7 linked regions of the Homo sapiens genome follow. The protein of the gene in region 5 purifies or fractionates together with the protein of the main gene of each other region. This does not show direct contact. Each region holds a gene or a part of one and is shown on either strand. Other genes may lie near its edges.

Region 1 (3,500 bases), on a different chromosome or scaffold from region 5:
CCCCAAAGAATAGAGAATTGCTAGGGTATATAATTGGGGGAAGGCAGCGAGGGATGAGGATAGTAAGGGTGGCAGTGTCTGTTCTATGGAGAGCACCCTTTATAGCTCTGTCAAAACATGAGCATCTTATTCTGTAGGGGATGGAAGGTGTCCCTGATGGACTTAAGGCAGGAAAGCATTTCAGAAAGACCTCCCTGACCATGGGGAGGTTGATTGGAGGAACAAGAAGGCTTAGTCGGCGTGCAAGTCAGAGAAGGGGCGAGAGATGAGGGTATGACTTTGCAAAAGGTTTGAGAAGTAGAGCTTGAGATTGGCTGAGTGTTGAGGAGGTGAAAGGGGCGCTGGGGTGACTTGAAGGTGGTTCCTGGCTTACCTGACTGTGTGCTAATTGTTTTACGAAAAGAGACTGGGAACCCACGAGAAGGAAGCATTGGTGGTGGCAGTGGCTAAGGAGAGAGAAGTGATGAGTCTGATTTGGGACATGTGTAGTTTGAGGCACCCATGAGTCATCCAGGTGTAGGTATTAGGTGGACAGTTGGAAATACTGGCTTGGGAAAAGAGTTGGGCTGGACATAGAGATATGAGAATCCCCTTTGTTTTGATAGATTAGAGTCCTCCTAGCTCACTTATTTGCCTTGTATTAATGTCTGTTAATACCTCCATCTCTTCTCCCCTGAATAACATAACGTTTGAAATATTTTATAGCTTTATACTTTTTTATAGCTTCAACTGTGTCCTCAAACAGCTAGATCCCCCATACACAGTTGCTAAAAGCCAGAAGAAACTTTCTCAAACCTTGCCAAAAATTCCTACATTGATCTGTTAGGTACACCAAAGTTATAGTCTTCTCTTCCTTCCTTCATTCATTTAACACATATTTATTGAGCATTAGGTGCTGTTGTTCAGTGTACTGGGAATGGGGCTGTGGACAGACCAGACAAGGTTCCCAGACTCAAGGAGCCTGTTAGGAGACAGACAATAAATGAACAAACAGGTAGGCATGTGATGCCAGAAATTGATAACATACTACCAACGAGGTAAAACAGAAATGTGGTAGAGTGGACGGTGGGGCTGCTTTAGCTGGGGTGTGCTGAGAAGCTTCTTTAAAAAGGAAACCTTTGAGCAGAGATTTGAAGGAATTAAGGGGGTTAGCTAGGTAGGTATTTTGGAGGAGAATATTCCTGCAGATGCAGAGGAAACAGTGACTGAAAGCCCAAGTCAGCAGTGTATTTAGCATATTTGAAGAAGAGTGGAAGGCCATAGGACCAAAGTACATAATCCTGGGGAAGAGTGGTAACAGAAGGAGTTGGGTCGGGGACAGTCATGTAGGCCTCACAGCACAGGGTAAGGACTTTGGATCTCAGCCTGTGAGTGACGGGGGCTATTGAAGGTTTGAGCCCCTTTAGAGGATCCTTCCCAGTGTGGTGTGGAGAACAGACTGGGAAGTGGGAGGGGACAAAGTAAGAACAGGGAGACAGGAAGCTACTATATCACCCAGATGTGACACATGAGAGTGGCTTGCACCAGGATGATAGTGGTAGAAGAGACAAAAAGTGGGTCTGACTCATGTATATATGAATAAATGTAGTGTAGAAATGAATTGCTAATGTAGGGTATAAGAGGAGAAAAGAAGTCAAGGACAATGCCACGGTTTTAGACCTGAGCAACTTCTAGCATGAAGATACTATTTACTGAAATGAGGAAGATGGGGAAGGTCCAAGTCTTTGTTAGATGCTAGAATACGGCCTTCCTCCCCCTAACCCCTCCCACTCCATGCACCCTACTGTCTGTGCCCATCTCTATCTTTCTGACACGGCTGTTGCCCTGCTGAAAAACCTGTGTACCAGTTGGTCCCTTTGGACACCAGAGGTCTGCTGTGAGGATGACATTAGATTATACAAATAAAGCCCATAGTGGGGACTCATACACAGACAGAGCTCAGGAGATGATGTCGGGCAAATAAATGAATGGAGTAAAAGGAATTTAGATGAGGGAAACTTTCTGTAGGTAATGTGTATTGAGGAAGACCATTTGGTAGGTAGGACTTGAGTTGGTGGTAATAATGATAGCTAATGTTTATTGAGTGGTTACTTTGTGACAGGTGAGGGAGATGCAGTTATTTTTCCATTTCACAGATGAGGCCCAGAGAGAGTAATTAATTTGCCCAAAGTCATCGAGCTAAAGAGTGAAGGAGCTGGCTGGAGCTCAGGGCTGCAGTGGAAGGTTGGGTAGGTGTTTCTTTTTGGGAAAAATGGCACAGAGCAGGACATGTGCAAGGATAGTCAGGGACCAAGTAAATCAAGTGACTGGTACACAAGGTTTATTCTGGGAGGTAGAAAGTTAAAAGCAGTGACTCACCTGGATGGATCCCTGTGAATGGGAGCCAGTGAGGTTTTTTGAGCAGGGGCAACAGCCGTGTCAGAAAGAGAGATGGGGTCGGGCGCAGTGGCCCTCGCCTGTATTCCTAGCACTTTGGGAGGCCAAGGCGAGCGGATCACTTGAGGTCAGGAGTTCGAGACCAGCGTGGCAAACATGGTGAAACCCCAAAAATTAGCTGGGCATGGTGGTGCGTGCCTGTTATCCCAGTTACTCGGGAGGCTGAGGCAGGAGAATCGCTTGAACCTGGGAGGTGGAAGTTGCAGTGAGCTGAGATCTCATCATTGCACTCCAGCCTGGGGGACAAAAGTGAAACTCCGTCTCAAAAAAAAAAAAAAAGGAAGCTAGAGGTGGCCACAGAGAGTAGGGTGCATAGAGTTGGGGGCAGGGCTAGGAGGAGGAAGCCCATGTTCTAGCATGTAAGAAGGACTTAGACTTAAAGGAATGAAGGTCTGGCCTTAGGTGGTAGTGATGGGGATGAAAGCAATAGTTAGAGGATGTTGCAAAAATATAAATACCCCATGCTATTTAAATCTGTTTAGGAGCTGGGTGCAGTGGCTCACGCCTGTAAGGCCAGCACTTTGGGAGGCTGAGGCAGGCAGATCACCTGAGGTCAGGAGTTCAAGACCAGCCTAGCCAACATGGTGAAACACCATCTCTACTAAAAATACAAAAATTACCCTGGCGTGATGGCACGTGCCTGTAATCCCAGCTACCCAGGAGACTGAGTCAGCAGGAGAATTGCTTGAAACCGGGAGGTGGAGGTTGCAGTGAGCTGAGATCACGCTATTGCACTCCAGCCTGGGCAACAAAGCGAGATTCCATCTCAAAAATAAATAAATAAATAATCTGTTTCGGTAATGAGAGTTTGGAGAGTGAGGAATATCATGTTATCTGAGTCTGTAGTATTTCGTTTCCTGAGTTTTAGTTAGAGAGTAGCAATAGTTTGGATAATGAGGAATACCTGCCTGCTTGCTATGGAAAAATGTATCTACATGTGTTTGGTTTCTGAGTCTGAGAGTGGAGGGACACCTGTAAGTAAACAATCTGAGGTAACACAGAGATGCAAAGGAACAGGGTGAGTTAGAACCTGGGAGACAGAAGCCAGGGGCAGAGGCGGAGGA
Region 2 (3,500 bases), on a different chromosome or scaffold from region 5:
GACCTTAGAAGGAGGCACATGTGAGACGAAGTCTTTAATTCAGGCATGCATTCATTCATTGAGTGCCAAGTGACAGGTATTTTATGGTGATGCCATACTCAGAGCTTGCAGTCTAGCTAGCAATACCAATTTCATTTTACTGAGAGCTTATGATGTGCCCAGCACTGCACTGAATGCTGAATTGAGTCACACACAACCCCCTAAGCAACGGGATGAAGCAGGAGCACGTTTCTCTCCGTGTAACCGGTAAAGATACTGATGCTAAGAGAAGCTAAGGAGCTGGCCCAAGAAACCCAGCCAGCACGTGGCAAGGCCCACGCAGAATCCAGCCCAAGCCCCTGGACCCAGCCACCACTCCGCTGCCTGCACTCAGGTGGGCCTGGCTTATGACAAATATCACCTTTCCCTGTTCCCGCATTAGGACCTCACTGAGACCTTGAAGTCTGAGCTCAGTGGCAAGTTTGAGAGGCTCATTGTGGCCCTTATGTACCCGCCATACAGATACGAAGCCAAGGAGCTGCATGACGCCATGAAGGTAACCAGGCAGACAGGGCAGGGGAGTGGCAGGGGTGCTCACATGACTGGGTAGGGGCAATGCGGGGACCGGGAACCTACAGCCCAGAGCTCCCCTTGAGCCACTGTTTGGAATGGCCATATGGGCCATAACTGGGCCCAGTGAGCAGGCAGCCTGCTGCTCAGACTGCACCCAACACCTGGAGTCACTGGTGCCTGATTGACACGTTGAGTGGCCGTGATGAAGCCAAAATCAGTACTTCTCAGAACCTCACGAGCTCAGGTGTACAGTGGTATTGGAAACCCACCTCTACAGTCCCAGGCACAGCCCCTTGGGTTTCCCTTTACCTCTCACTACTCTTTGCTTTTGCAGATTAATAAGGATGGGGACCCAGTAACTATAGTCATTTTGTTTGGAAAGACACTTGCTGCATGGGCACTGCCAGGCATTTTACACCCACGCTCCCTAATCTATCTTTGGCGCAGGGGAGGCTTCTTATTCCTGTTTATGGATCGGGATGCTTAGGCTCCAGGACATGGAGCAGCCTGTCTGAGACCACCCAGCTAAGGAGGGAGAGCTGAGACAGGGCTTCCCCGTCACAGCACTTGCCCTCAATGTTCATCACTGAAGCATGTGATTTTCTCATCACATCCTCCCACTTCAAGTGGGGCAGGGCAGTGAGGTCCTTCCTGAGGCTCAGGCATCTTGAGAAAAGAAGGTGTGGACAGAGCAGAAGGTCATGGCAGAGCACTCCAGCAGGCAGAGGTTTCTGTCCACAGGGCTTAGGAACCAAGGAGGGTGTCATCATTGAGATCCTGGCCTCTCGGACCAAGAACCAGCTGCGGGAGATAATGAAGGCGTATGAGGAAGGTAAGGGGTGGCACAGATGGAGGGGCTCAGGAGTGGCCACAAGCTTTGGCAGCCTGGCAGGGAACAAGGATCAAGAATTAACCTGGGCCACACTAGAAAGGACCCTTTGGGGACTTTTTTACCCACAGGTGCTGAGCACCTACCGTATGCCAAGATCTGTGCCTGATGGTGACACTGAACATGATTCAGACTTGATCTGTAAGCTCACCAGCTCCTCTTACAGGGGAGAGAGGCCTGTGACCAACTAAAATCTCTGCCCTTGAGGACTGTGGTAGTAGGGGGTGTGGACCCCAGGCTAGCAGAGGCCAGTCAGTCCTCCACATCATGTACCTAGTGGGGAGTTTTCCTGGAGGCTTTGGCTTTGCCAAGCCTTGAGATGAAATGGAGCTTGGTTGGCAGCCCCTAGCCTGGCTCTCTGACCTGGTCCATCTTGTGCTTTGAGCTTGGTTGGGTACGCATGTCGCTTCTAGTTGTGAAGCACCACCCAGGCGACAGCCACTTGGACACCCGGGCATTGCATCCATGCCCTGTGCCAAGGACTTTCTTTCCTAGAAGGCTTTAATAAGGAGAAGTATGGGGAACAGGGCTGGAAGGAGGAAAGCAGGCCCCGGGTAGGCTGTGGGCCTCTGCTTGTGCCTCATGGTCCTGTTTCCCTGCAGACTATGGGTCCAGCCTGGAGGAGGACATCCAAGCAGACACAAGTGGCTACCTGGAGAGGATCCTGGTGTGCCTCCTGCAGGTGTCACAGCCTAGGCTCTTGGGAGTGCCTTGGTTTGGGAGTCCCAACAGCTCCACCCCAGGGAGCAGCCCTTGAATAGCGCCACAAGAGTCAGGGTAGGGGCATGGGATAGCCCAGCAGCCAGGGCTCATTGGGTGTGTCTCAGCATGGTTAGAGGGTCCCAACTGCAGAGCCCCCACACCTGTCCTTACTCAGCCATGTGAGAGCATCCTGGAAGCGGGAGGAGAGCAGGTCCTTCGTGCAGGCCTCATGCCAGGCACTTTGCTTACCTTAGCTCACTGAATCCGCCAAGCCTTATGAGGCAGTCCTTACCACCCCCATTGTACAAATGAGGAAACCAAGGGCTGAAGAGAATAACTGGCTTGTCGAAGTTTCCACAGCCAAAGAGCAGCAGAGCCATGCCTGCCCTCCAAGCCCAGGATCCCCCCTGTGCCCTTAATGCTCTGGTCAGCTGGCCTGCCTTACAGAGCCACCTCCTCTGTTCCTAGGGCAGCAGGGATGATGTGAGCAGCTTTGTGGACCCAGGACTGGCCCTCCAAGACGCACAGGTGAGGCTGCGCCCAGCCGGCCATGTGGCCCCACCCCCTGCCATCTGGACTCCGGCTCCTCTGCCCACGGGGGCTTTCTCTGACACTGGGCTGGGACCCACCCAGCTCAGCTCCCTATAGGCCTTTGTCCTGTGGTGTCTGGGGAGGAGAGTGAGGGTGTTGGGAGACTCGGGAGGAAGGAGTGTGACTTGGGGGTGGGGGAGCACTAAAGCTCTGTCCTGGCAGGAACAGCCCATGAACCCGGGGGCGCTAGGCCCCAGTGCTGGACACAGGTGTCCGGGTCTCTGTAGGTCTGCCTGCTGGCAGAGGGAAGTCTGGGGACCAGGCAGTTCCTAGAGCAGCTTGTGGCCCAGGATAGAGAAAATATTCTAAGCCAGAGCTGCTAGAGAAAGGGGAGCTCCCTGTCAGAGACGACCAAGCAGGGGAGCATGCTGGCCTGGCAGAGTGGACAGGGCCAGGCCATGGCCACAGCTCTGGGACTCTGGGGCTCAGTCCCTCACCTCCCTGGTCTCCCTCACTGGCTTATTGTGGGTGTCCCAATGCTAGGATCTGTATGCGGCAGGCGAGAAGATTCGTGGGACTGATGAGATGAAATTCATCACCATCCTGTGCACGCGCAGTGCCACTCACCTGCTGAGAGGTACCAGGGAGGGAGGGGCTGGGGCCGGGGCCACAGGGGGTGTCCTGGCCATGAGCCTCTCCCTCGTGCTTCTGCCTTGTCAAGTCTAGAGTTAGGGAGAGAGCCAGGGAGCCCAGGACTGTTTCCCCAGCCACCAGTGGGAGGTCAGGGCGGCAAATTGATGTGCGATCTCTGATCCGAGACACTGAG
Region 3 (3,500 bases), on a different chromosome or scaffold from region 5:
CACTGAGGTTTGCCAGGACAATTATGTATCTTGCTAAAGGTGATCTTCTTAAGATGTACCTGTCTTGTTCAGATACAGACTGAATGTGTGGGAAACTGAAGTGATCATAGTGTTCTAAAATATAGGTTTGTAGTTACCCTGTAGTGTAAGTGTAGCTTTTTATTTACCCTGAAGTATGTAACTTCACAACGTGAGAAAGATTCAGTTACCTACAGGCTTCCTGGCTGGCCTTCCAAGCCATCCGATGATTTCCATGGACTTAAACTAGAAGAAACTTGACTTTGCTCTCATGTGCATTAGCTTATGTCATAGAAGGTGCTTGGTAATATTGTCAAATCATACCTGGGCTGTTCGTCAGTGATCAGAAGTTAATCTGGGTCCCCAGCCTCTGACAGTGGTATTTCAAAACAAACTCGATGCAACTAATCCTAGTTTTTAGTGTAAAAGCACTTTTCTAACTCTAAATTTATTTCTTTGTATAAGGTGATGTCTTGAACTAAACCCAAAGTTTGTTCGTTGATCCTTGGACATTAAGTGGATATGGAGACTTCCGCCCCAGGGTATAAATTTTTAATCAGGATCTTTGTCGTTCTATAAACTGCAGGTATGAAAATGAAAGTCTTCAGAATGGAAGGAAGTCAACTGAATTTCCAAGAAAAATACGTGAACAGGTGATAGAAAATATCCAAGTTTGGGCTGATTCGTTTCGATGATATGAAATCATTTATGTATGCTTTAATGATTTCTTACTTGAAATCAGTTACAAAGAGGGTGGTTACTGTTATAGTAGGAAAATGTAACTAAAGTATAAAAACGAGTTGAACTTAGACGTATTAAAATAATCTAAAATGATATTTCCTCTTTATTGTTCAAAATCAGAGCACTAAGTTGGTCTTACACTTTTAGCCAAAAAGTCTATTAGAGCATGTTGCGAGCTTTTTGCAAACCCATGATTAGGATAACCCCAACACGTAGAGCTAACATTTGGGAATTGCATTATCTGGTGGCTCATTTTGTCGCCCAGTCATTGTACTCATCCGTCTTTATGTGTCTGAAATAATCACATTATGAAAATCATGAGTGCCAAAGATGCTTCTCTATTTTGATAGATAGACGACCCATGAAACAGGAAAAGGGATCCTGTGCTTTGTCTTGTGAGAGAATCCTATAGTTTGAGTGTATCAGTGTGGAACAGGTATTCCAATTGTACAGCTTATGAAAACATAATTGTCGACACGTGCTTCGCAATTTAGATAGTTTGAGTATATCAGTGTGGAAGAGGTATTTTAGTTGTACAGCTTATTAAAACACAGTTGTCGGCATGTGCTTGGAAATTTAGTGGGATTTAGGCTTAGGATGAGCCCTGAGAATTCATATTTTTCCTACATTTTAGAGTGCTCCTAAAGCTAGTTTCAGATGAGCTCCTTGGAATATCTTGGCTTAGGAGAGTTATCTTAGGTGCACCTGAAATTAGCAGTAGGTACTCTTGAATTTCAACATTTCTGCCTTTTTTTTTTTTTTTTTTTCTGAGACGGAGTCTCACTCCGTCACCCAGGCTGGAGTGCAGTGGTGCGATCTTGGCTCACTGCAACCTCCGCCTCCTGGGTTCAAGCAATTCTCCTGCCTCAGCCTCCCGAGTAGCTGGGACTACAGGTGCACACCACCATGCCTGGCTAATTTTTGTATTTTTAGTAGAGACAGGGTTTCACCATATTGACCAGGCTGGTCTTGAACTCCTAACCTCGTGATCCACCCACCTGGGCCTCCCAAAGTGCTGGGATTACAGGCTTGAGCCACCATGCCCAGTCCATTTCTGCCATTTAAGTACTGCCTTCTTCCCTAGAGGAGCAGCCTTAATGTTGAATCTGATGGTCATCAGTTCCCGTGCTGGAAGCCAGTTTCTGAGGCATCCCACACTGTAGCCACCAGGCAACTTGCTAGTCTATGGGAGTAAATAAACCAAAAAGCCAGTTGAACTGTGGGTTAGATATGTGCCACTCAGCAGTCTAGGAACTGTTTGTTCTGTTACTGGTCTGTGATATAGTGAGTACTGAAATGGAGTATGTAGTAAATATGACAGCAATTCGACAGCAATTTTGTGGCTATTGAATGTAATCGTACAACAAAAGTGAGATTATATACTTTACATATTCATAATTTTATTAGTGGTTCATTTATATTGTTTAGTCATAAGATTCTTGTTCCACTTCAGATTGGAAATAAAAAACCATCCCTCACATAGATAGTTTTAGAAGCAAGGTGTTACGTATCAAGAAACCTAAAATTGATTAAGGAAGTTAGATTCTTTGCCTTTGTTAATATTTTTTAGATATTTTCTTAATAATCCAGATGATAAGCTTTTCTTCCTTTGGGGCATCAGACTTTTATAAAAGTTATATATATATGTTATTCTTTAGTTCTTCCACCCTTCCGGAAATAATTCCATATGAAGGAAAGTTAGGGCGCTGTCTCTGGGGAGCCAGGTGGGGGCGCTGCGCCTGCTCCCAGGCTGTGAGGTTGCAGAATCTGTGAATATACCATGTGTGCCTGTACCATGAATTTACCTAGGGTGAATCTAGGCTCTCAGATCCACCCTAAGTATCCACCAGCCAAGAGGGCGCACATGCCAAGTGGAGCCTCAGTTCATCGACAGGTCCTATGGCCCATTTATGAGAAAACTGATGACGCAGTCAGTAGTTCTGAGCTCGTGGGGGGTTACAGATCTTCAGTATAGGTGATGTTTAATATTGACTTTGGTTCTTCCGCAATAGGATGTTGGGAAATATCTTTAAAGGAAGTTATAAAAACACACCGAGGTTTGATTTTAGTAATTTTAAGCCTCGAATTTGTTTCCTATTAATCACTCACTATTTTTTAATGAGTCAGCTAATAAGTACTTTTATCCTGACCACTAGCTCCCAACTGACTTGAGCTCATTTCTCAAACAGTCTTTAAAAGTCATATACGAGTGGTTTGGTAAAGAAAACAATTTTTTATTGTTTTTATTTTTATTTTTTGAGACAGAGTCTCGCTTTATTGCCCAGGCTAGAGTGCAGTGGTGCAATCTCTGCTCACTGCAACCTCTGCCTCCCGGGTTCCAGCAATTCTCCTGCCTCGGCCACCTGAGTAGCTGGGACTACAGGCACCTGCCACCACATCCAGCTAATGTTTGTATTTGCAGTAGAGATGAGGTTACATCATGTTGGCCAGGCTGTTCTCAAACTCCTGACCTCAAGTGATCCGCCCACCTTGGCCTCCCAAAGTGCTGGGATTACAGGCATGAGCCATCATGCCCAGCCAGAAAACAATAAATAATATTTTCACTGTTGTGACTGTCATCATTTAGAAAGACCTGCAAATAACTGTTCTTATTTTCCCAACTTACAGGAGCCAGCACGTCGTGTCTCAAGATCTAGCTTCTCTTCTGACCCTGGTGAGTAGTGGTTGGGTTTTGTTCCAGAATCCTGAAAGATCAGGTCTTTGCGAAGCATATTGGCAAA
Region 4 (3,057 bases), on a different chromosome or scaffold from region 5:
AGACTGAAGACTGTCCATGCTAGCCTGGTGCTTTTCGCACAGCCCTGCAGTGGCCCTGGGCTCACCAGCCAAACATGCTGGGCAATGTGCCTACGAAGTAATAAGCCAGGCTTGGTACAATTGTGAAAGGCTGTCCTCTCTTGCTCAGTGGGCATATGTCACTTGAAGCTGCCTGGCAGTGCTTTATTAGGGCATCCGAAGAAATACTGCCTTAAATGGAACTGCATCCCAAGCCCATTGCCACAACCTTCTCCCTGTTGGGAATGTGAGACTGAACTGAACACCCGGATGCAACTGATCCTGAGGCCTGGCACTGTGCCACCTCCCTATTGGGTTCATGGCAGTCCCTGCAAGCCTGGCTGGGACTCCTCTGTCATGCAAAGCAGCTCTGGCCCCTCCAAGGCTGTCCAATTGTCATCTGTGTGCTACTCCACCCCCAGCATGGGGATGAACCCAGGTGAATAGGTGGGTGACAGTGAGAATCAGCCCAGGGCAGGTGGTGCAGGAAAAGAGCTGGGAAAGCACTTGTCTCCTTTATTGAACATCTGCAGGGGGCACCTCTGCACTGACCAGGCAGCCAGAGAAGCAAGCAGGCAGGTGGTGGGGGGCAGGGGAGCATGGGGCAGGAAGACGCCCACCCTCATTTCCAGTCCTTGAAAAATTGCTTGAAGATGGGACTCTCATGGCCCTGAGGCAGAATCTCCACCTGCAGGGACAGCGGGGGAGAAGTCTGGTTCACAAAGTTGCCACCTCTGCCTCTGCCCAGGAGGACAGGAGGGGGCCAGAGCCAGGGAGGAGGGTGTGGGCGCCTGGCCTGAATCCATGTGCAGTCCAGGCTGGGAAAGCTCCCCTGGATGAGCCATGAGATGAGAACCAAGATTTCAGGGACACAGACAGAGGCAACAGACTGCTTCAAGGGCGTGGGTGCACAGTTTAATAAATGCCACCAACGGTAGCTGAGCCCTGTCAGCTCCCCACGGGATGACTTGTGGACACTGTGCTGCGGCAGGAGGGGTGGCACCAGCCAGGGACAACGGCCCAGAGGAGGAGTACCCAGTTCTCTGGGCACCCAGGAGAGTGCTGCCCAACATCCTCTTTGAAAATAATAAGTATTTTGACATTTTGAAGGATTGAGATGGGCTTTCCCACTGGATGGGTCTAAGAGGGAGGCCTGGTTGTTCCTGACAGTGCCCAAGGCTCTCCTGCCCTTCCTGGCCAATTTGAGGGGTCAGGGGCCACAGGAAGAGCCCTAGGAAGAGGGCTGTGGTTGTGCGCATCTCCTCACCTGAGTGTTCGGGGCGTACTGCATGCGCGAGATGAAGCCCTCGGCCACCTGCAGGGCTGCCTGCCGCTCCTTCTCATTCGCTTTTCGCCCTAGATCATAGGAAGGAGATTTTTAAAAAGAGCAGGGACCCTCTTTAGCTGCCATCCCATTTTTCTTGAGGAAATTTAAGGGAGTCCACAGAAGAGCCAGCAATTTTTACAATAAATGGACCAGGGGTCCCAAGAATGCCGAGGGGCTCTTTGGAGATGTGGAGTCAGTCCCTTAAGAATTTTCCCAAACCGGCAGCACCAAGGTAGATGAAAACCCCTCGTCTGCCCGGGTCTGATCATGCAAAACTCTGCTCTGACCTGGGCCCCTGGAATATTTCAGGGAGGGGAACAGGTGTTCACCCTAGCATCAGACTGTGAGGCCGCAGGTCTCCTTTTCCTCTAGGACCCCTCACCTCTTGAATTCATCAAGCCTTTTCTGAAAAACTAAATAAGACAAAGGGTACAATTTATTATAGAGGTGATTTACTCCCATAATGCCAGCAGGGCTACACTGGCCTAACAGTTATGCTAACTAAGCACTTACAAAAATGAAGACCCCACGTAATCCAGTCATTTCTGCTAGCAGTCCTGAGAACTCAAACTGCTCATTCCAGGCTTTTTTATTTTTATTTTTTCTGAGACGCAGTCTCGTTCTGTCGCCCGGGCTGGAGTGCAGCGGCACCAACACGGCTCACTACAGCCTCAACCTCCCAGGCTCAAGCAATCTGCCCACCTCAGCCTCTCGTGTAGCTGGGACCACAGGTGCACGCCACCACACTCAGCTAATTTTGGGGGGTTTTTTTTTTGTAGAGAAGTGATATTTCGCCATGTTGCCCAGGCTGCCAGACATTTTTCCAAGGAAATGATACCGAAACGATGCCGTGATGTGGTTGGCTCTCTAGGCAGGCTATAAAATGCCATGAACTACAATGTATCTGAAATTAATATGCTGGATTCCTTCCTCTGTCAACTGACCAGCTGCCCCCCTACCCATGAGATCCTTCTCTTCCTGGCCTCCCAAGTTTCCTGTTTTTCCTCTGATTTCTCTTTCCATAGTTGTTGGGTTCCTTGCTCCGGTTTATACATGCTTCTGTGGGCCTCTGTGAACCCCCCTCTGCTTGGCATTGGTTCCATGGGATATGTGCCCTCTGGCAGGAGAGAAAAGGCAGCCCTGCAGCACACGCCTCTCGCTTTCCACTCTTTTGCTGCTCCCAGCTCCTCCCTTTCACTTCTATCCCTGCTGAGTTTCAGAAGCAATACTATGAAATGCCTGGTAGCAGCTATCTGTAGATACCCACCTACTTGTCTGCCTTCCTGACCAGGCTAGGGGCTGGCATTTTCTCCACCTTGGTTGACCCCACAACTGGGTGTTGAGCAAATGCTATTGCTGAAAATTCTCAGACCCCAGGCAGAGACTGAGAACAAGTTTGTTTCATTTTCAGTCAAACCAAGCAGAACAGGCTCTGCCCAACAGTGTTTCTATTTCCAGAAGATAGAATCTTTTGGAAAAACAAGTTCTACAGGTTCACCACTCACTGCATAAAATGATGTTTAATTTGTCTAAAATTCATTTCTGTCAAACCTTGAGACAGAATCCCAGGATCAGGGGTCCCAGAAGCCCCAAAGGTCTAGAGCTGGGCTAGGGCAGTGGTTCTCAAAGTGTGATCCCTGGAACCAGCAGCACAGACATAACCCATAACCTTGTTAGAGATGCATGTTCTGCCCCACTCCAGACCTAGTGAA
Region 5 (3,500 bases):
AAACTGAAGAATAATGATGTCCTCCTGCTTGCCTCTTAGCATTCTTGTGAGGTTCAGATGTATCAATATGTCTTTAAAACGTATACTCACTATTAGAATTGTTGTTTTTAGTGAATGAACCTAAGATCTTGGTTTTCAATGCCATGTTCTATCTTGCTGAACAAGCCACATGAGTTACATTGTAGGTCACATGGGGGAAATGATTGTTTGTTTTGATAATCAGTTTGCCTTAGTTATCTTATAAATCAACTATTTATTTTGTTACCTTGGTTTGATAAGAGTTGAGATCTTTCCTATGCAGACTATCACTATAGGTAAGAGTAGGGTGTGTATGTGTGTGTGTGTGTGTGTGTGTTCTCTGAAATGTCTCATTATGTAATAAAGGCAAAGAAGTTGCACAGTATGTGATTGAACAGTGAACCCCAATCGCAGATTTCATGAGATTATTTTTAAAACATTGGTTATGTTGTGTAATTTCTTTAGCAATTGCATTAGAGTTCCCATTTGTTGTTCTAGTTATATTGGATATTATGCACTAATATTGATGGTTTTTGTACAGAGCTCTTTATATACTATTGGAATACAAGTTTTTTTTATGGTTGTATGTTTTTTTGATATTGACTCGGCCAGGCTAAACATGTTTGGTAGAACCAGGTTCTATAATATTGTACTAATATATTTTAGTTTAAAGTTCTATAATATTAAATCTTAGAATTCAGTGTGAGTGACACATTTTGTCAAGTACATCCCTACTTTTGTGGCTTGTGTGGGCCAGGGTAAGTGATAACTGTGGCAGAAAGTGAAGCATGTACAAATATTGACTCAGGTCACTCTGCAGGAGCTGGCAGGATTAGGGGTGTTCTCCCATTGCCAAGCATGTTGCTTAACACGTTGGGCAGCAGAGCTGTCCAGACAATATTGGAACAATTATTATGAAGGAATTTCCTAGAGTTTGTACAGAAGTAATGTAAGATATATTTACAATAAGGAAAGCTCATATTTTGGCCATCTATTCTTACTTTAGGGTATAAAAGAAAAACATTTAAATCAAAGTCCTGAAATTCTTTTATATATCTTCACCCTTTTTTGAATCCTTTTGTTCCTTAGTGTATGGTGTTGAGGGGAAGGGAACATTTTAGATTCAGTAGTCACGTCACTTATGTCTACTTGAAAAGCAGAATCTAATTATGAAAATGTAAGTCTGTGAAATGTTCCTGTCATGTCAAGAATCACTTCTGGTATTCCCCATAATTACTGTTTTGCCATTCTCTAACTCAGGTTATCTTCACTTGCAAGTCTGTTATCAATTGAGATAGATGATAGGTATCAATCAGAAATATAATTATAAATGGGCTCATTGAGAATGGAGACAAGAATGAGTATTTCATATTTCTAAGGATGACACAGGAGGCATAATTATTGTTATGTCCGTTAAGTAAGAAAATCCAATAAAACCCCTTGGAAGACTGAAATAAATCCAAATTCTGAATTCAAAAAATATTCTAAATGATGATTTTAATTTTGGAGATGAGCAATTTTAAAATGTGCCTCATAATTTCTCACTACTGATAAATAATGAAGTGAGCCCAAAATAGCATGTCAGCCAGCAAACATACCTTCCATCCCTGTCACCCAATATATTCAACAGTAACTGAGCAAAGAAAATGATATAACCTAATGCAACATACCTCAGAGGCTAACAGCCAAGGCAAAAATGGATGCAGAGGTTCTTTGATCATAACAGAGAGACCTGTCTCCTGGGCTGTCTTAGAATTTTACTGGCAAGTTGACCAGTTCCTGAGGATTCTCACTAAGATTCCCAAATCTGAAGAGAAGAAAACTGAGTAGGTATCCTCACCATTTTGGGTTGTTCTTGTTTTCTCTTGTGGCTGAGAAATAGTAGAAATGAAGGCTTCAGAGCAGCGTACTAAATTGGGAGAAAGATCGATCCATAGCTCTTTGGAATGACGTACCTTTCACCAACTAAACTTAGAGATTCTGCCAAGAAGAAAAACATCAACTCATTGAACCCATGGAATTAGACGTCTTAGTATTGCTTCCTACAAATAGAGCACCTTACATAAATTTTATATTAAAAAAAGCTGAAAGGTGAGATGATAAACAAGAGAATGAGATGAGAAAGGAGATATAGATCTCAGGAAATGAATCAAGAATGGAAAATCATAATGATTATAGAAAAAAATATTCATTAGAAATAGAAGAAAACAGAATAGGCCCAGGTAAAAATCTTTACACATAAAGATGAAAGGTTTGAAAAAAATCAGAGTAAATGAAAAAGGAAAACAGTTAGACAAAGTAGAAATTCTCAAACATGAAAGAGGCTGCTTGACAGTGAAAGCCACACAGTGAAGAGATGAACTTAAAACAAACAAAAAACTAAATTCAGAAGTAGAGAAAACATTATCAAAGTAACGAGGGAACACTGAATGCATTTAAACAACTATTGGATTGTGTTTATAGGGCAGAAAACAGATATTATAAAGTAGGGGAATGTAAAAATATTAATAAAGCTGGCCAGTGTGAGGTGTTAGAGAGAGGTGAGATGGAAGGATGTGAGAAATGCTAATATCCTTCCCTTTCTGAGCAGGGACAGACTCCCTGCTGCTTAAAATAGAAACACATACTTAAAAAAAAGATTCAAAGCACTGATTTTTAAAAATAGTTTATTTAACCTTAAAGAGGTCTTTTTGGAAATAGTATCTCTTACGTTAAGGAAGTATTTAGTACATTTATAGTTCCTTCAACTGCAGTTTTAAATCTGCTTAATTCAGTTAAGTTTAAATTTAAATTCAGTTAAGTTTAATTTCAGTTTTTAAAAATAAATATAACATCAGTGATATGTTCTTATTTTTATAATTTTTTAAATCTATCCATCCATCTCCTGAAGAATTCATATAAAGATAGGAAGAAATAAGGAAAGATGCTGTGCTGTGTTTGGTGAAGAGGAGGGGCTTTTTCTTTCAGCATCATACCTCTTTACAGTGTATGATTTTTTATAATAGGCATGTATTCTATGAGAAGTGTTCATTACACACCCCCACACAAAGCTACCATGTCAAAATACTAACAGTGATTAATTGTAAGTAGTAGGTATATTAGTTAGGTTGTTTTCTCCTGCAGATAAAAGAACACTCTAGTCAAAATGACAGACAAGTAGGACATTTATCATGTGATAAAGTAGTTGGGTGGTTAGGCAGCACCAGGTAGTCAAAAATGGCAGCAGCATTCAGGTCCTTCATATAGCTCCACTCTGCTGGTCTTAGCCTTGGTTGGTGTGATCCTAAGATTGGATCCTCCAATGGTCACAAACTGACTTGTAGCAGTTCCAAGCATTATGTATGTTTATGCATAACAAATTGCAGAGACAAAGGTTGGATCCTCCAATGGTCACAAGTTGACTCGTAGCAGTTTCAAGCATCATGTTATTTATGCACGACAAACTCCAGAGACAAAGAGGGGAAACTGCTGTCTTGGCGTCT
Region 6 (3,500 bases), on a different chromosome or scaffold from region 5:
GTTCAGCTTCCTTACCCAAAAAATCCCCTATAGTCTTTTCACTCATTGGTATATTATCTGAAATGTTATTTCATTTTAAAATTTATATATTCAACTCAGTTCCTAATTCTGATCTCAACCACAAAGTTGAGATTAGTTTTAGTTTATGTTATGAAAGTGATTGAATATTTCTTTGTACCCATTCCTTCAGTTGGTCAAGAAATTAATTACAGGTATAGTTTTACAATCAAATATACTTTTCTATATGATAATCTTTATCCCATTAATTTTTATTTTTATTGGTTACAATTTTAAAAGCTTACTTTCTAATCAAACATTCTTTAATTTTAATTCCGCAATACACAACTTGCTAAAATTTATTGGAGGGAACCTTCTACCTTCCCTGAGTGTCACTGTCAACATAGCTTTATATTCCTTTCTGCAACTTCATTTGGGGAGCCGTTGAGTTGATTTCATCCTATGGGGGAAAAAACAATTTCCTTTACAGTGTTATTTTTCTAGAAAAAGCTTAAAATTTTATCATGTTTCTAACATTTTAATGGTGATAGAAAATTAAAACTTCCAAAAGAGTAGGCCTATTGAAGAAAGGTACTCTGCCAGACCTACTGCTATCTGGCTTGGTACATCATTGCATTGCTCTACCAAAGTTCCTGCTATTAGAATTTGCCCGTTTCCTACTGACTGGCTCATTGCTGAAGCCTCTGTTTTTCTTAAACATTGCATTGCAGTCTCCAATTGTGTTATATCTATCCAAGTTTTGACTAAAGAAGGGATACTGTTTTGTGACGTAGAAAGCAAATGGGACTTGCTTCTGGCTACCTAGAAGCTTATTTCAGCAGGAGGTAAATGTACTGAACAATTATAGCTGCATATTTGTTTTCTTGAAGCAAGCAGTAGAACAATGAAAATATAACAGTTATGTTTTGACTTTTTATCTTTCATTTTGCTTTATTTGGTGATTGTGCTATAAAATGCCACTGTAAAGATCAAATTGATTTAGGATAATTAAAATTGATTAAGTTTGTCATATATTTTTAAAATGTGTAAAAAGCTTGAATTATAGCCCACCATCAAATTATAAATCATTAATAAACTGTGAAGGCATTTGCATTCTTTTTTTTTTTTTTTTTTTTTTTTGAGACAGCATCTCACGCTGTCGCCCAGGCTAGAGTGCAGTGGCATGATCACTGCAGCCTCACTGCAACCTCTATCTCCTGGGTTCAAGCAATTGTCTGCTTCAGCCTTCCGAGTAGCTGGGATTACAGGTGCCCGCCACCATGCCTGGCTAATTTTTTTTTTTTTGTATTTTTAGTAGAGACGGGGTTTTACCATCTTGGCCAGGCTGGTCTTGAATTCCTGACCTCGTGATCCACCCACCTCAGCCTCTCAAAGTGCTGGGATTACAGGCATGAGCCTCCACGCCCAGCCTGGCATTTGCATTCTACTTACAATGTTGAGTACTTGTCTTCTGCAAGTTACTAGAAATAACGGAATAAGACAGTCAGATTTTACCATTACTGTCTCCAGTGGAGACAATAATTTTAGGAGCTTTATTAAAGCTTAGAAATACTAATATAATCTATCTGTACTTCCGAAAAGTAATGCCTGACATGTATACTTACTTTTGTTGTTTGTAGTGCTAATCCTCCATCTGGAATTGAAGATGAAACTGCTGAAAATGGTGTACCAAAACCGGTAACATAAGGCTTTGAAATCCAGTTACTGATACAAATCTTTATCAATAGCTTCACAGTTTACATAGAAAGCAAGCTGGCATTTTACATTACCTTCAGTATCAGGTGTTATCTGGCCCTTTCTTACATCTCCTACTTCATCTGGTGCCATCAAAAACATATATAGGAATTAAAATGAGGAAAAGAAATAGTAGAAAGACTGCAGAGGAAAATAGTATGTGCAAAGGCTTGATGTTTATTGCTTTCAAGGAATTGAATGGTTATAAATCTACTGAATATAGTGAGCCTGGTTTTCAGAGCAAGTTTTGAGCCCACAACCTTTCACTGTTACGATTTTTTAACGTTGCTTTTTAATGTATGTGACAGTCCCTGACTGCATGCCTGCATGCCATTGATACTTTGTGAGGTGAACATATCATTGGTCCTATGAATATTTGTGCATTTTAATCCTATAAAAGGAAGGAAGTTATTGTTCCGGAAGTTTGAAGTTGTATACAAAAAAGTATTTTGCCTATGTGATCTACTTATTTACTATGATGTGATTAAGCACAAAATAGCCTTTAAGAGCCAAAGTAAAATCTTCACAAATATAGAATTTGCATGTAGGGCCTCTTCTAGGTATACAAGAATACCAAGAATAACTGAGCTTCTACTTAACTATTTGGTACTTCTTATGCTTTGGGGTTTTTTTTTTTAATTCTTTAATTGATTTGGTACATTGTATTTGTGACACTGTGAATCTTAAAATTGTTTTCCTCTTAGATTCTTTTTTGCCAAGACTTCTCAAATACTTATTTTTTATAATTTTATCTTGTAGGTATCTTAGTAAGTTGCTTTAGATCTTTTTGCAAGAGGGGCAGATATGATAGTTAAAAAAAAAATGAGGTGTTGTTTACCACAAGGAGATGATGCCAAAAAGATTTCATTTCTTTATTCATAGTCTTATCCTTTTTATCCTGTAGAACATCAAAATTATGAGTTGAAATAGGTGGCAGCATTATAAGCTTGTAACTTTTAAATTGTATCTCAAAAAAATACAGAGTGGGGCCGGGCATGGTGGCTCACGCCTGTAATTCCAGCACTTTGGGAGGCCAAGGTGGGTGGATCACCTGAGGTCAGGAGTTCGAGGCCAGCCTGGCCAACATGGTGAAACCCTGTCTCTGCTAAAAATACAAAAATTAGTTGGGCATGGTGGCGGGCACCTGTAATCCTAGCTACTCTAGAGGCTGAGGCCGGAGAATTGCTTGAACCTGGGAGGTGGAGGTTGCAGTGAGCTGAGATCATGCCACTGCACTCAAGCCGGGGCGACAAAGTGAGAGTCTGTCTCAAGACAGAAGAAAGAAAAAAAAAAACAGGGTGGTTACTTTTTTTAGTTATTAGTATTAGATGTTGAAATGGATTACTGAATGTATTTTATAATTTGTTTATGTTCATGTAGAAAGTGACTGAGACCGAAGATGATAGTGATAGTGACAGCGATGATGATGAAGATGATGTTCATGTCACTATAGGAGACATTAAAACGGGAGCACCACAGTATGGGTAAGTTATTTTTTAGTAAGTAACAATTGTGTAAATGCTATATAGTAAGGAGAGTGTGCCTATATCAAACTCTCAGTGGTTGAGTCCATTGTTTTTACATTTTTCTATTTTAACATAAAAGAACTTGTTAAAGTTTCATCATGAATATACTTCTTTGCTAAAATACAGTTAATTGATTAGGCGAAGGTACATAGAAGCAGCAGTTTTTGATGCTGAATTTAAAGTGTTTTTATAAAAGAATTGAGTGCTAGGCCAGGCATAGAG
Region 7 (2,551 bases), on a different chromosome or scaffold from region 5:
AACCATTTCATACGCAGTAAGGCTTAAAAAATGTATAACAATCATATTAATGATTACTGAAGTTTTGTGCCCCCAGTTATATTTTGACGTCCCATAAAAATTGGCTTTCCTCAATAGAATTAGCACTTGTTATATCTTATCAGAGCTTGTATGAGAAAATATGGTTGTTTCCTTTAAAGTATAATATGAAATTACGATGTCTTTAAATTTATTTGATAATGTAAAACTGTACTTCCCCCATCTGAGTATTCATTTGGTCAACAAATATTTGACAGTGTAGCAGGCAGTTTCATAGGAAGCATCACTAAGAGAAGGTGACATTTAAGAGCTGAAAGAAGAAAGGGATCAAAGCTGTGCAGTTACTTAATGAAGAGCATACTAGATCAAAGAGAATATTAATAGATGCCAAGTCCATAAGGCAGCAGTGTGTCTGCTTGTGTTCAGGGTCAACAAGGAGGCCACTGTGGCTGGAGCACAGTGAGTGAGAACAGAGAGTAGCAGGAGATATGTTAAGAGGCGGGAGAGGATAGATCGAGTAGATCATTGTAATTGCCTTGGCTGTCATGGATACCAGAAGCTATTGGAGGGCTTCACACAGAATAATGACATGACATGATCTGATCAGTTTGGCTGCTGCATACAGAAGAGATTAAAAATGAATAATGGACAGAAACGAGAAACTTTGGAGGCTACTGCAGTAAGTCAGGAAAAGATAGTAATGGCTTAGGTGAGATGGTAGAGTTAGGATTGTGAGAAGTTGTCAGATTTGGGATATATATTTAAATTTGAGCATTCATGATTTGCTAATGATTGCATTTGGGGTGTCTGAAAAAGAATCAGATATAATTTGTGTTCTGTTGTAGGCTGTTTGCTGAGGGACTTGATATTTTGTTTTCTGTTGTATTTCTCAGCACCTGGCAGTATGTTTGATACATGGGTAGTCAACAAGTAAATATTTATTAATATAAGTGAATGAATGAAAAAAAGTCAAGCACTTCTGGTTTTTTTTTGGTGTTTTTTTTTTGTTTGTTTGTTTGTTTTTTTTTTGAGACAGGGCCTTGGTCTGCCTGGTTTTTTGGGTGTTTTTTAAGGCAGGATCTCACCGGTCTCCCTGGAGTACTGTTAGCTTGATCATGGCTCACTGCAGCCTCAACCTCACCCGGGCTCAAGTGATCCTCTAGCCTCAGCCTCCTGAGTAACTGGGACTGTAGGCATGTTCCACCATGCCCAGCTAATTGTTTTATAATTTTGTAGAAACAGGGTCTCGCTGTGTTGCCCAGGCTGGTCTCGAACTCCTGAGCTCAAGTGATCCTCCCACCTTAGCCTCCCAAAGTGCTGCTTTTTTTGTTGTTTAACCATTTACCCTTTTTCGGTTTGTTAAATGTTCCTCATTGTTTGAAAAAAAGAATTGAAATCAAATGAACAAGTCTACATCTTATTCATTCATTCATTTAGTAATTAGTTTGTATCATTATAAATGCTTTCTCATTTTTTCACTTGCTTTTCTTTTATCTTAATGTTTTTCTTAGATACTAGTAGTAGTCAACCAAAGCCTTTCAGACGAGTAAGACTTCAGACAACATTGAGACAAGGTGTCCGTGGTCGTCAGTTTAACAGACAGAGAGGTGAATTTCTGACATAACTGGATTACATGATAGAATGTGGAATAGTAATAAATGGAACAAGTTTTCTAATCCTTAAGCCTCCAATTTATTTTTTTAATGTTCCAAAGTTTTATTAAATAATTACATGTTGAGCAGGTGATATTTACCAATCTGTAAACTTCATGTAGACAGATTTGTATACCTTAGATATATAATAAATATGTGCTTATATTTTATATTTATTGATTTCTTCCTTAAATCCAAATTAAGATTTGGAAAATATGAAGTGTTATAGTGTTATATTCATTTGTTGTATCTCTACCTATTGCCATTATATTGTTAATTTTTTTATACAACACGATAAAGCTTTGTGATTATGTTTTAGCTAGTAAAAGTGTAAAATTTTAATATTTCCATGTTTTCCAATATAACTTTTAGATTGTACTTGTGTCACAAAAAGAGGGATTAATCTGCTTGTAATAATTTCCATTGAAGTTGTAGAATACCCAACAGTTTTATATCCACAATGCCTAGATATTTTTTATAATGAACTAGGGTAAGTGAATACACTAGTTTTGAATTCTTAAAAGATATATTCAATTTGATTCTTTTTTCTTTTACAGGTGTGAGCCATGCAATGGGAGGGAGAGGAGGAATAAACAGAGGAAATATTAATTAAATGGTCTGTAAACAATAACAACTGTGAATAAGATTATCAAATCTGTTTTAGTGTAATGATTGTCAAGTTTAAAAACATTTTTATATATAAACTGGTATACTCATGTCAATATTCTTTATTAATAAAATGTTTTTCAGTGTCAAAATTTATTATTCATTTCTTCATTAGTTGACTCCTCCTTTGCTCATCAGTCTAAGGACAGTTGTACCAGACTTTGGATAAGGTCTGCCCAGAACGAGTAGTAATTGCTCTTGCTGTTCTACTAGGC

The links.
Region 1: the proteins of HDAC9 (region 5) and NUP93 purify together in Homo sapiens (affinity purification with mass spectrometry; one large-scale study listed by BioGRID and IntAct). This does not show direct contact.
Region 2: the proteins of HDAC9 (region 5) and ANXA8 purify together in Homo sapiens (affinity purification with mass spectrometry; one large-scale study listed by BioGRID and IntAct). This does not show direct contact.
Region 3: the proteins of HDAC9 (region 5) and MKI67 purify together in Homo sapiens (affinity purification with mass spectrometry; one large-scale study listed by BioGRID and IntAct). This does not show direct contact.
Region 4: the proteins of HDAC9 (region 5) and CAPG purify together in Homo sapiens (affinity purification with mass spectrometry; one large-scale study listed by BioGRID and IntAct). This does not show direct contact.
Region 6: the proteins of HDAC9 (region 5) and FIP1L1 purify together in Homo sapiens (affinity purification with mass spectrometry; one large-scale study listed by BioGRID and IntAct). This does not show direct contact.
Region 7: the proteins of HDAC9 (region 5) and TPR purify together in Homo sapiens (affinity purification with mass spectrometry; one large-scale study listed by BioGRID and IntAct). This does not show direct contact.

What each region holds. Positions count from the first base shown.
Region 1 is NC_000016.10:56,733,129-56,736,628, forward strand, and holds part of NUP93 (nuclear pore complex protein Nup93), read left to right. Parts: intron 1-3,500. UniProt on the Homo sapiens protein: Plays a role in the nuclear pore complex (NPC) assembly and/or maintenance. May anchor nucleoporins, but not NUP153 and TPR, to the NPC. During renal development, regulates podocyte migration and proliferation through SMAD4 signaling.
Region 2 is NC_000010.11:47,474,116-47,477,615, reverse strand, and holds part of ANXA8 (annexin A8), read left to right. Parts: exon of another isoform or gene 1-373; intron 374-421; coding exon 422-535; exon of another isoform or gene 536-536; intron 537-1,293; coding exon 1,294-1,384; intron 1,385-1,512; coding exon of another isoform or gene 1,513-1,550; exon of another isoform or gene 1,551-2,025; intron 2,026-2,043; coding exon 2,044-2,123; intron 2,124-2,611; coding exon 2,612-2,671; intron 2,672-3,217; coding exon 3,218-3,311; intron 3,312-3,500. UniProt on the Homo sapiens protein: This protein is an anticoagulant protein that acts as an indirect inhibitor of the thromboplastin-specific complex, which is involved in the blood coagulation cascade.
Region 3 is NC_000010.11:128,116,424-128,119,923, reverse strand, and holds part of MKI67 (proliferation marker protein Ki-67), read left to right. Parts: intron 1-604; coding exon 605-671; intron 672-3,387; coding exon 3,388-3,433; intron 3,434-3,500. UniProt on the Homo sapiens protein: Protein that associates with the surface of mitotic chromosomes and acts both as a chromosome repellent during early mitosis and chromosome attractant during late mitosis.
Region 4 is NC_000002.12:85,394,253-85,397,309, forward strand, and holds the end of CAPG (macrophage-capping protein), read right to left. Parts: intron 1,375-3,057; coding exon 1,286-1,374; intron 707-1,285; coding exon 641-706; 3' UTR 501-640; downstream 1-500. UniProt on the Homo sapiens protein: Calcium-sensitive protein which reversibly blocks the barbed ends of actin filaments but does not sever preformed actin filaments. May play an important role in macrophage function.
Region 5 is NC_000007.14:18,498,749-18,502,248, forward strand, and holds part of HDAC9 (histone deacetylase 9), read left to right. Parts: intron 1-3,500. UniProt on the Homo sapiens protein: Responsible for the deacetylation of lysine residues on the N-terminal part of the core histones (H2A, H2B, H3 and H4).
Region 6 is NC_000004.12:53,380,641-53,384,140, forward strand, and holds part of FIP1L1 (pre-mRNA 3'-end-processing factor FIP1), read left to right. Parts: intron 1-1,637; coding exon 1,638-1,695; intron 1,696-3,132; coding exon 3,133-3,236; intron 3,237-3,500.
Region 7 is NC_000001.11:186,313,703-186,316,253, reverse strand, and holds part of TPR (nucleoprotein TPR), read left to right. Parts: intron 1-1,529; coding exon 1,530-1,625; intron 1,626-1,686; exon of another isoform or gene 1,687-2,227; coding exon 2,228-2,283; 3' UTR 2,284-2,475; coding exon of another isoform or gene 2,476-2,551. Other genes in the region: PRG4 (proteoglycan 4 isoform A preproprotein), read right to left, coding at 2,476-2,551.